3 separate regions of the Homo sapiens genome follow, and all the other regions are linked to region 1. Evidence: fine-mapped expression QTL. A gene starts in region 1. Each other region holds a variant in brackets. All regions are shown on one strand. Distances are between the middles of the regions. Region 1 holds the start of PLEKHA2 (pleckstrin homology domain containing A2). Region 2 overlaps PLEKHA2 (pleckstrin homology domain containing A2). Region 3 overlaps PLEKHA2 (pleckstrin homology domain containing A2).

Evidence for each region. PIP is the estimated chance that this variant, and not a neighbour inherited with it, causes the effect.
Region 2: its variant is the best candidate, but not a certain one, in a credible set for the expression of PLEKHA2 in nasal epithelium (TOPMed, PIP 0.60).
Region 3: its variant is the best candidate, but not a certain one, in a credible set for the expression of PLEKHA2 in monocytes after R848 (Quach 2016, PIP 0.80).

The regions. Positions count from the first base shown.
Region 1 is chr8:38,899,654-38,903,763 of GRCh38, reverse strand. It overlaps PLEKHA2 (pleckstrin homology domain containing A2), which reads right to left and starts at 2,418. Exons shown (of 12, transcript NM_021623.2): 1 at 2,319-2,418. LOC124901937 (a long non-coding RNA gene) reads left to right here and starts at 2,319. Exons shown (of 2, transcript XR_007060893.1): 1 at 2,319-2,551; 2 at 3,068-4,110. RefSeq lists silencers at 1,747-2,416, 2,497-2,906 and enhancers at 3,507-3,756, 3,817-4,006.
Region 2 is chr8:38,926,446-38,930,555 of GRCh38, reverse strand. All of the region lies in intron 2 of PLEKHA2 (pleckstrin homology domain containing A2), which reads right to left. Among named protein-coding and RNA genes, the nearest start is that of PLEKHA2, 27 kb to the right of the region's middle. The variant T/A (reference allele first, on the strand shown) is at 2,150.
Region 3 is chr8:38,944,164-38,948,273 of GRCh38, reverse strand. PLEKHA2 (pleckstrin homology domain containing A2) reads right to left here. Exons shown (of 12, transcript NM_021623.2): 5 at 2,053-2,150. Among named protein-coding and RNA genes, the nearest start is that of HTRA4, 28 kb to the left of the region's middle. The variant T/C (reference allele first, on the strand shown) is at 1,723.

The DNA.
Region 1 (4,110 bases):
TGGTCTGCAGCAAGCTCTCATCTGAGTCATCCAGCCTTTCAGCAGGGGCATCACCCACCTGTCCATCTGTCCCATGAATTGGACAGGAGACCAACGCTGCTTGGGTCTTCCTAGTATCCTAGCACTTCGGCAAACACTTGGCAAGGTAGTGGGAGGGCTGCTCTGGGGCTCAGCTGATAGGGCTCATCAGCCTTCCCCTTCCCACTTCTGCAGAACAAAAACCTGCACCAACCAAAACCTGCATGTCTTCAAGATTTATTTTAACCACTCAAAAATACCGAGCTGAATATGGTTCAGCTCACTACCATGACATGATGGGATCTGCAGGCCCTATTTCCTTAACACAGAAGAGAGAAGAAAGCACCAATGACAAGGAAAAAGAAAGGGTTGCAAAAACTCTTCACCAAAGGGCAGGCAGTTTCTCAATCAATACCAAGGTAATTACCAATCTGTGAAATGAGCAAGGCTCCCATTACCAGCTAGCTAAAACCCCACTAGGAGTGCCATAGACAATTTGTAGAAAGCATGCTGTAATGTACAAACAGGGTCAAAGGATACTTAGGTGTAAAGGCAACATCCGGACTAATAACTCCCATGTACCAGCTTGGAGAACCAAATCCCTACAGGTTTGAGGAACAACCACACTGCTCTTTTCTCTGCCATTTGGACAAGTGCAAACAATTCATGTGTTTGCATTCATTCATTAATGCAATAAACATTTACTTAGCACCTGGTACATGTCATACGTTGGGCTGGCCATAATCTAGACTACAAGCTAGACCTCTGATAGTGCAAAAGTCATCTGCCTTCAGGCGGCACATGGTGAAGAGGGCTAATGTCTGAGATGATGATGATGCTTTCTAAAAGCTTACTCTGGCTTCTCAAAACAAGTGGGGGGCTTACAAGTCCTGTAAGCTCGCCAAAGACAGGGTCCAGCCCTCCAGAGGTAAAGGAAAAAGAAAAAATAAAGACAGGGGTTGTGTTTTGTTCATCACTGCCTTGCATGTATAATACATGTCAACTGAATGCAACTGAAATAGAAAGCAAAAACTTCTATTCTTTCAAGATCTTTTGCTTTGCTGTTTCGGAAGGCTTCGCAACCAAAGAAAAAAAATGACAAAAGAAGGGAAAATGGGACTTGGTCAGATAGATTAAGAACACCATTAGTGCAATCTTGGGACTTCAGCCCCAAGTGCATCTACAGCTCAGCCTTCAGAGCCCCCAGAGCCACAGCTGGCTTTCTGGTGGGGTGCTCTCCCCTCCCTCTTCTCTGCCGTTTACTGTCCTCTGAAAACCCCACTTGGAGCCCTAAAGAAAGAAAGGGGGCGGGCAGGAAGAAGGAATGAGAAGGGGAAGATACATCCTGAACCTGCGTTCACCAAGAAGGAAGGAAGCCAAACCCTAAGGCTAGGGCCTGGGGGCAGGGCTGGCCCCGGGGAGGAGATGTGAGGGTGCTCCGGCCGCAGCGGGCCCTGCGCCCCTCTCTGGGCGTGCAGGGACACTTTTCCCTTCTAAACGGCCTAGCTTCCCACCACCCCCCCCCACACCCTTCTTTTCTCTTTCTTTTTAAAAAAATTTTGGTGAAATCGTCTTTAGGACTGGAGGAGAAAAGGGAAGCGTGTAAGGTGAGGAAGAAGTTGGTGAGAGAGAGAACGACAGCTCCCCTCGAGGGCTCACCCAACCTGGCACCGAACCTGCATTTTAGGGCAGTCCTTTTCACTGTCTGGAGTTCCAGAAGCCCGAAGTCCAGGCTGCACCCAGAGGAAAGGACAGGAGTCCCTAGGGGAGCCTTCTAGGCCTGTCATTTAATAAGGTAGTCGGGGGAGTGAAAGAGGAGTCTCCATGGCCCAATCCGTACCCAAGGGACTTGCCTGGGGACGTTCTCTGCTCTCCTCCCCTCCCGCAGCCCGGGCAGTCGTTGCGGGGTCGGTGCCCCAGCGCCAGAACCCGCAGAGAAGTTTCGCTGCTGCAAACGTGAGAAAATGCAGCTCAGCAGAACTCCCGCCCCCACCCTCTCCGCGGCCCCACCCCCCGCAGCCCGACCCCTGGCGGCGGCGACCTTGGCCACCCGGGGCACTTGGAGGAGGGGCTGCCCTCGGGGCTCTCCCAGAGGGTTGGAGGAGGCCTCCAGGGTCTGCGGCCACCTCCCCTCGCCTGTCAGCCACTAGGACCGGCGTATTCAGCCCTGCGCGCGCGCCCCTCGCGCCCCTAGGCCGCCAGGCCTCCGCCGGGGCGCCCCCTGCACCCCCAGCCCCGCCAGCCCCCGCGCGCCCCTCTGCGCCTCTCCACTCCCGAGCCCGCGAGGGCGCCCAACTTACCCCCCCGTGCAGGGGCCGGGGCTCGGGCGGGGCGCGTTACATCGGGCGGGGTCGCCCCTCCGGCCGCCGGGTCCGCCGCGCTCCAGGGATTTCTGGGTCTGCCTGCCAAACTCTCCGCGCCTCTCGCTCCCCTCGCTCTGGTCTCCCCCAGTGCCCCCTCCTTCTCTCCCGTCCCTCGGCTCTTTTTTCCGGGTTAATTACGTTTCGCATTAAAGCAAAACCCAGCCCCGGATGTGAGTACAATGCTCCGCGGAGCCCGCCGGGGAGGGAGAGGGGTGCCGGGGCGCCGCGGGCTGGGAGGGGGTGCGGCCGGGCGCCGGGGCCGCGCGGGGGAGGCGGGGGCGGGGCGCCCGGAGGCTGCGCCCGAGGCCGCCCGCGTTCCGCGCCTGGCAGGTGGGACCTGCGCGCCGAGACTGCCCCGCGGGGAGGCCCGGCCCCGACGCTCGCTCGGGCAGCAGGTGTCCGGGCAGGGGGCGTCCTCGCAGGAGGAGGCGAGCTGGAGCGCGAGCTCCCTCAAGAACCCCATTTCCTCCTCCCAGAGCCCCACCCAGCGACCTCAGCTGGGCCTCCTTCGGATCCCGAGCCCTTAGCCTTTGGGGACCGAGGAGTTGGGGTAAGGGTTAGGGTCCCAAGAAGAGTGGCTTCTTCAGGTTGTCCTAAATGTGCCCTAAGAGACCAGTGGGCGGGAACGCTCTAACCAGGGTTATAAGGACTTTAATTTCTTTATTTTATTTTATTTTTTAATCAAGACAGGGTCTGGCTCTGTCGCCCAGGCTGGAGTGCGGTGGCGCAGTCATAGCTCACTGCAGCCTCGACCTCCTGGGTCCAGCGATCCTTCTGCCCCAGCCTCCCGAGTAGCTGGGACCACAGGCGCCTACACCGTGCCCGTTGGGACTTTTTCGGTGTGATGCGAAGACTCCCTTCCTGCCCCCAGAGCATGAGGGTGCTCTGGGAAAAAATGGGAAACAGACAAGCATGTGTTACTACGTAAACCTCGCCAAGAGGAACTAAGAGAGCTGCTGTGCGCGGGTCCCGCCCCTGCGCTATCTCATTTGATCCACGCCGCAACCTATGGGTACCAGTCCGGTTCACGGTGAGGAAACCGAGACTCAGACTTGTGAAGTAATTTGCCCTGGGTACCCAGTTAGTAAACGGCAGGTCTGTCAGGTTCTGACTCCGGCCTCCCACGTCGGGAGAGAGACATTTGAATATGCATCAAGTCAGGTGGACAACATCCGAAACATGAAAATGTAGAAGATTCGCGCGGGCCTGCGGGGCCGTGCGCCGGTGTCTGGCGATCCTAATGCAAACGTTGTTAATCAGGTGTAAATCCTACGAGGCTTTGAAAGAGGCAGGCATAAGAAGACGCTGAGGTTCTCCAGGACAAGGACTGGATTTGCAGGAAGGAGGGAGAGGCTGGGGCACATTCCCGGTGTTAACAGAGGAAAGGCGGCCTCTTATGTCTCCACGACCGACCGGAGGCCACAAGGCCTGGGGAGGGGGGCTCGGGCCGATGAGCCAGGACCGAGGGAGAAGGACAGCCCGCCCCACACACCCCGAAAGCACCAGTGATGAAACCACACAAGTTTCCTCTTCCATTTTGATTGCCAAAGCAAAAATGAACACCGCCGGTGTCTCAGGTGTGAAAAAAGACTGTTTGCTTTAGAGCATTTTGCTTTCAATGAGGAAGAAAAGGGGGACGATGGGCAAAACACACACACACACACACACACACACACACACACACACACACACACACATTTCCCTTGAAATAAATACATCAATGTCTTTT
Region 2 (4,110 bases), 27 kb before region 1:
TGGAACCACATAGGGCACAGGGCAGGTTCCTGTTAAAAGATAGGTGGTTTTAGGCTGAGCGTGGTGGCTCACGCCTGTAATCCCAGCACTTTGGGAGGCTGAGGCAGGGGGATCACCTGAGGTCAGGAATTCAAGACCAGCCTGGCCAACATGGTGAAACCCCTTCTCTACTAAAAGTATTAAAAAATTAGCCGGGCATAGTGGCATGCGCCTGTAATCCCAGCTACTTGGGAGGCTGAGGCACGAGAATTGCTTGAACCCAGGAGGCGAAGGTTGCAGTGAGCCGAGATTGCGCCACTGCACTCCAGCCCGGGTGACAGAGCCAGACTCCATCTCAAAAATAAATAAATAAATAAATAAATAAATAAAGATAGGTGGTTTTATGCAGACAATGCCAGTACCTTCCTTTTTGCTCAAGAGCTCTTCTGCCACTAAGGTCCTTGAAGGAGCCAGCTCCCCAGGGGGGAAAATATATGGCTTATTCTTCTCCGTCACCAAGGAAGCAGCTGAGGTGCCCATACAGGGATGTGGCACACCTCCCACGTTAATCCTTTTTCTAGCAACAGCAGTATTTCTTGTTGAAGAAGAAATTTTTACCCATGTGACTTCTACTCCCTTCCGCCTCTTCCAGTGAGAGTCACAAAGAACACAGAAATGACCAGAAGACCCAACTATCGATCCATAAACTCACAGCATGTCAGCACTCAAAGGTCCTGTGCATACCTCTTCATTCACTACACATGAGTCCTCTAAGGCTCAACTGGGGGAAGTGACTTCCTTAGGGAGTCAAATGAAGACAGAGCTCAAACTCCTAACATCAATCTGGTGCTTTGGCAAAGTAACAGCCTGAGAAAGAAAGAAGGAAACTAACATATATTTAGAAATTATGATGCGCCAGACATGCTGCTAGGCACCTTCACATGTGGTCGCCTAATCCTAACAATCCCATTTCACAGATGAAGAAACTAAGGATGGGGCAGGTGAAGGAACCTGCCCAGGGTCACACAGGCAGCAAGCAGCGGAGCCAGTATTCAAGCCCAACCCTTCCTGATTCCCAAATCCCATGCACTTTCCTTTAGGCCCTGCCATCTCCCATGAGACATTATCTAAGAGCTGATTATCAATGAAAGGTAAATACAAAAGCAGGACCAGCAGGGTTACACCAAAAGAGGCCCAGTGTCATTGCCCAAGCTGGGCAGGGCAGGAACTTGTCCAACTGGCTCTTGGGTGCCAAACTCCAATAGACCAGAGATTCAGAGCAGAAAGGGGGAAGGAAGGAGAGATGCTGGTGCCATCTGACCTTCTCTTACAGGCCCCTGGGGTGTCCAGCAGACAGTAAAAAGCAGCTAGCAGGAGACGGAGGGAGGGGACGCCCCTGGTAATCCCAGAGCTAGGGCATGAGCTGACATTGCTGTCTGTGAGCTAAAACCATAGCTCAGCCACCAAAAGCCACGGCCATGTAGACTCACAGAAAAGAATGTGCCTGCAGAGGGGGTATAGCTCAGAGTAGACATTTGAATGTAGGAGAACGGTGTGACAGGACTGGGAAGGAGGAGCATAGCTGCCGCTGCCCCACATTCCAAAGCCCTCACCCTGACATGAGCAACCAAAGCAGGGGAGCCAAGCGAATCCCAGGCACCAGGTGACCTGGGCCGTGGCTCTACCTGCTGCTCTAGGGCCAAACACCTCTCCTCCCCTCTGCCCTGTAGGTCCACTTGCTGATGCTAACGCGGGGACACACGACACGCTGATAGCTACTCTCCCCATTCTCCAGTTCAAAGTGTGTATTTAATCTTTCCCTTCAGGAGAAGTCGATTCTATATCATCCTCTGCTGCGTGGGCTTAATGTTTTTATTCTATTACTTGGATGTCGATTTCTTGTTGACAGACACCAGTATCAGCTTTAGACAGGATAAGTTTCATTGTGTGTTAAGTCTCTCAGCCACACCCCCATTCCCTTTATTTCCGTCTTCCAACTCTGGTGACAGAGACTTAAAGACCAGGTCGGGCCGGGCGCGGTGATTCATGCCTGTAATCTCAACACTTTGGGAGGCCAAGGCGGGTGGATCACTTGAGGTCAGGAGTTCAAGACCAACCTGGCCAACATGGTGAAACCCTGTCTCTACTAAAAATACAAACATTAGCTGGG[T/A]GTGGTGGCGCACACCTTTAATCCCAGGTATCCGGGAGGCTGCGGTAGGAGAATCGCTTGAACCCAGGAGACAGAGGTTGCAGTGAGCCAAGATCACACCACTGCACTCCAGCCTGGGTGACAGAGTGAGTGAGACTCCATCTCAAAAAGAAAAAAAAAAAAAAAAAAAAGACCAGGTCAGAGGCCTGGGCTTCAGATAATCTCCCGGAGGCATTTGGGTCCCAACTCTGACTGCTGGCCACCTAAATGTTTCTAAAGCTGTAAACTCAATAAGCCAACTCCATCAGCCCTTTCTTCAATCCAGCCTCAAACTCAATGTCATTTCCCCTCCACTTTCTAATCGGTTTCCCTCTCCCCTCCCCAGCCTCTGTCAGTAATTCCACCTCCTCTCCCCAGTCAACCAGGTACTAAACTTTCAAACATTCTTCCCTCATGTAGCCTCTAAACCTGCCCCCCCACTCTCCATTCCCACCACCTCAGGCATATCAGGAAGCTCTGTGACAAATCCCCAGCCGTCATCTCCAGCTCCAGCTCTCCCCACCTCCCCATCCATCCCGATGTCCTGGCCAGAACAAACTTTCTTAACAGATAACATCTGTAGCACTTTAGAGCTCATCAAAGCATTCTCACATACATTATTTACTCTTCACAGCAACAATGTCACAGGTGGAGATCATTGATATCATTACCATATACTGTGGATGAGGACAGGAGGCTCAAAAAATGGATGTTTCCTTAATGAATATATTCATCATGTTGTCCTGTGCTCAATTGATATAACTAATAAAACTGGTCTCTGAAGCAAAATCTAATATGAACCCCTCCCCCAAACATGCAATAACCAACCTCCTTTGCCTTCGAGACACTATTTAGATAATAAATTAATAAAATGACTTTTTTTGAGACAGGGTCTTGCTCTGTAACTCAGGCTGGAGTACAGTGTCCTGATCACAGCTCACTGCAGCCTCTAACTCCTGAGCTCAAGTGATTCTCCCACCTCAGCGTCCCAAGTACCTGGGACTACAGACATATGCCACCACGATTGCCTAATTTCTTTATTTTATTTTATTTTTTGTAGAGATGGGGTCTTCCTATGTTGCCCAGGCTGGTCTCAAATTCCTGGCCTCAAGTGATCCTCCCACAGGCCTGGGATTACAGACATGAGCCACCATGTCTGGTCATACCATTCTTTGGTATATAACTAGATCTATAAATATAGAAAGAGATGTATATAATAAATACATTGAACAAATGTTGAAGGTTAAAATGTAAAGCAAAATCTAACAACAACATACCAAAGAGAAGTTTTGAGAAAACTTAGAATAGTCATCACTATGGTTTTGCAATAGTTATTTAACCTCTGCTAAGTTTCATAGCTTCTATCTGTTTAGCTGCTTGGACTTTAATACTGAGTAGTGCTAACTCTTAACACAATTCTTTCAATGTGCTACTTAGTTTTTTGTTTGTTTGTTTGGTTGGTTGGTTTTTTTTGAGATGGAGTCTCGCTCTTGTTACCCAGGCTAGAGTGCAATGGCGTGATCTCAGCTCACTGCAACCTCTGCCTCCCGGGTTCAAGCGATTCTCCTGCCTCAGCCTCCTGAGTAGCTTGCCACCATGCCCTGCTAATTATTGTACTTTTAGTAGAGACAGGGTTTCGCCATGTTGGCCAGGCTGGTCTTGAACTCCTGACCGCAGGTGATCGCCTGCCTTGGCCTCCCAGAGTACTGGGATTACAGGCGTGAGCCACCGCACCCGGCTTAGTTTTTAATTTTTTTTAATTTAGACAAAGTACATCCTGTTATAAAGATACAACTTGTTTAAAAAATATGATGGCTACAGAAAACACATAAAGCAAAATTGCAGTTTCTAATTCTACATTAAGCTCTCAAAAAGCCCACATATAATTTTAATTCTAAGCATGTTTTGACCAGGCCCAGTCAAATCCAGCAGTGAGCTCTGAC
Region 3 (4,110 bases), 45 kb before region 1:
GCTACTCTTTCTCACTTTCTGTGAGTTCTGTTATTATGTAACCACATTTTTAGGGATGTTGATTTTTAGTTGATATTTAGTGATTAAAATCACCATGGAACTGCAGAAATTTCCCCTAAATGACCCAGATGAATTCCTGAAACCCAGCAAAGAAGGAGGGAAATAACAATTTTTTTTTTTTTTTTTTTGAGATGGAGTCTTGCTCTGTCGCCCAGGCTGGAGTGCAGTGGCGCGATCTCGGCTCACTGCAATCTCCAGCTCCTGGGTTCAAGTGATTCTCCTGCCTCAGCCTCCCAAGTAGCTGGGATTACGGTGCATGCCAACATGCCCAGCTAGTTTTTATATTTTTAGTAGAGACGGGGTTTCACCATGTTAGCCAGGCTGGTCTCGAACTCCTGACCTTGTGATCCACCCGCCTCAGCCTCCCAAAGTGCTGGGATTACAGGCGTGAGCCACCGCGCCTGGCCAGAAAGTAACTTTTTAGAGTTCCCAGTGGCCAGAAAAGGAGGCACAGAAGCTTGGCTGCTGTGTTTCCTCTCAAAATCCCGAAGAACACTGTTTGTCAGTGCTTATGCTCCGGTGTCATGCAGTGCTTCAGATCAACATGCAGAGCCTTTCCAAAGCTGTTTACACTACCTGAGACTTCTTTAAGAGATGGGCTTTCACTCTGTTGCCTAGGCTGAAGTACAGTGGTGCGATCATAACTCCCTGCAGCCTCAAACTTCTGGGCTCAAGTGATCCTCCTGCCTCAGCCTCCTAAGTAGCTGGGAATACAGGTGTAAGCCACCAGGCCTGGCTAATTTTTTTATTTTTTATTTTTTTTGAGGTGGAGTTTCACTCTTGTCGCCCAGGCTGGAATGCAATGGCACGATCTCGGCTCACTGCAACCTCTGCCTCCCAGGTTCAAGTGATTCTCCTGCCTCAGCCTCCTGAGTAGCTGGGACTACAGGCGTGTGCCACCACGCCCAGCTAATTTTGTATTTTTAGTAGAGACGGGGTTTCACTATGTTGGCCACAGGTGATCCACCCACCTCGGCCTCCCAAAGTGCTGGAATTACAAGCGTGAGCCACTGCACCCAGCCATCCATCCTCTCTCTTTTCATCACTCTCTCTTTTCACGGGTTTACCAAGGTTTATCAGAATAAGAAGCTAATCAGCAAAAGTGCTTATAGGAGACTCAATTACACTCAGGTTGGGTCTAGCAATATGAATACTATATACGTGTACAAATTTCTTCTATACAGTTGTTCACAGGAACCCTGAGAAATCTGGGAGGATAATTTGCTGCAGCATGTAATAGTCACTACTGGAAGCCCCTCAAACATAAGCATTTCTGACTGTATGATACAGAAACAAACTTTTCAGCAAAGAAGCCATGATCTATATAAGCCAGGAGTCTGCCTGTCTTATTGATTAAAAGTCTAGTTTTTTCCAAAACATAGTTTCCCCTCTCCATCCTTCCTACCCTTCTTCCTTTCTTTTTCTATATCTCTAAGGAAAAAGAAAGGAATTCTTCATTAGCCAACTCAAGGAAAAAGAGCACACTCGTAGGACAGTCCATGAACGAGCTCTGTGATGCTTTTAAACAGAAGGCTTTTCTAGGACAGGGAGGCGGATGGCTTGGACTGACCCTGCAGGCAGCCTCTGAAAGTAAGAAGAGTATCCCCCAAGCTGGGAAAAAGTTCTGACTTCCCTCCCCATATGCTTTTCCCCTTACTTGAC[T/C]TTTCACAGTCACCAATCCATTTTCCAATCCTACCACATTCTGAATCAGCATCCCAGAATCACCCGAAACATGACTGATCGGGAGCCCTCCCAGGAAGCACAAAGGGGACGCTCCATGAACTTCCCCTTGAACTTGATTCAAACTCAGACTCTCAGTTCAACTTGTGTTTGGTCAGCCAAGGAAAAAGACGAGGTGGGAGAGAACTGGGTACAGACCAGGCTCCTGGGAAAGTCCCCGCTGCCATCTCAGTTTTCCCCAACCCCAACAAGGCCATAGCCTGGGAAGAGGCACTTTTACTACCACCAGAAAACAGAAGAAACCAAACTTACGGTGATCTTGCTGGCTTGGTTCAGGGCTTCAACCCAGTCCTTCATATCTTTCTGATCATTGGCTTGAAGGAAATATCTCTGAGACAGGGCATTGATAACTACAAAAGCCACAGAAAAGAAGGGAAGACATTCCTAGGTCAGAATACAAGCAATACAACAAGTCTCCACAAAGCTAAGGTGTTTGAGGGAGTGAGATGAGTGAACTCCACAAAGCAGAACAAGAAATCTCCCATGATGCTAAGTCATTTGCCTGGATATCTAGGAAGCCCCAGGCCACACCTGCTCACTCTCTTTCCCACCTTTAAAAACATCCCATTGGCCACAGGAACAACACCTGACCATGTTAACAGCAGCCTCAGTGTGCTGTTCTGCGGTGATGAGGCTGCTGGTCTGCCGTCAACAAGACACAACTGTGAACCGCATTCTGGCGGTGCTAATACATTTACTGTCATCACGGTATATACAGAATTTTGGACCCATGCTTGGTCTCCTCTGGCACAACTGGTCTGGACTGGGAGAGTTGTCTGTGGTTGGGAAATAGAACAAAGCTTTCCTGAGATCAAATCTGTGACCTTGGCCTCACTCTCAACCTGTTCTTTCCTCTGAGCATTCCATTAGGTCAACAATTTACTTCCACATTCACTATTATTACATATATATATTTTCAGATCTGATAACCACAAAACGTGAGAGTCATTTCTGAGCTTAGCTATGAAATTTGCAAGAAATAGAAGAATGAGCATGCCAAAGAAGTCTGAACAAATCTGAGGTGGGGAGACAGAATCGCTCAAGGGAATACTTTATTCTCTTAGCATAAGCTTGAACTGTAGGAGGTGAGTCTCATGGGGTAGATGCAGAATTCATCCGTTCATTCATTCATTTGACAAATATTTACTGAGCACCTACTATGCGCTAGGAAACATCTTTAAGTGCTGAGGATACCACAGTGACAAGGCAGAGGAATACCCCTGCCTTTGTGAAACTTACATTCAGAACCACCCCAGATAGGCAACAGAAACTATTTGTTAGCATTTGCTCATAGCACTTAGCACAGCTGTGAGAACATAGTAGGAGCCAAGTAACTATTTGATGATGGATTCACTGAATTCACTGACCACTTCCTGACTTGAGGCACCCATGCACGGTGACTCTGCCTCCTACACCATCCCCCAACATGTCACTATTGGGCAACTGAGACCCTTAACAGAATTCTCCTTCCTTTGTCTTATCCCCTTCCTGGCACTGCCATCTGCGTCTCCTCTGAGTCCTCCATCTTTTCTGAGCACAACATTTCTCAGCTCTAAAATAAGGTTCACAGAAACTTATAGTGGACATTTTGCACCTGCCTTGTGGCATCAAGAAAACTGAAATGCATATGGACAATTATTAAAAGAAAAAAATGTTCGAGATGATGGACATTGATATGGTTTGGATCTCTGTCCCCACCCAAATCTGTGTCCCTACCCAAATCTCATGTTCAATTGTAATCCTCAATGTTGGAGGTGGGGCCTGGTGGGAGGTGACTGGATCATGATGGGTCGTGGGGGCGGTTTCTCATGGTTTAACACCATCCCCCATGCTGTTGTGTCATAATAGTGAGTTCTTGTGAAATTTGGTTATTTAAATATGCATAGCACCTCCCCACTCTCTTTCTTGCTTCTCCTCTGGCCCCATAGAGCCTGCAGAACACTGAGCCAATTAAACCTCTTTTTTTTTTCTTTTTTTGAGGTGGAGTAGAGTGCAATGGCCTGAAATCAGCTCACTGCAACCTCCGCCTCCTGGGTTCAAGAGATTCTCCTGCCTTAGCCTCCCGAGTAGCTGGAATTACAGGTACTCACCACCACGCCCAGCTAATTTTTTTGTATTTTTAGTAGAGATGGGGTTTCACTATGTTGGCCAGGCTGGTCTCAAACTCCTGATCTCAGGTGATCTGCCCGCCTCGGCCTCCCAACGTGCTGGGATTATAGGTGTGAGCCACCAGGCCCGGGCAAACCTGTTCTCTTTTTAAATTACCCAGTCTCAGGTATTTCTTTATAGCAGTTCAAGAACAGACTAATA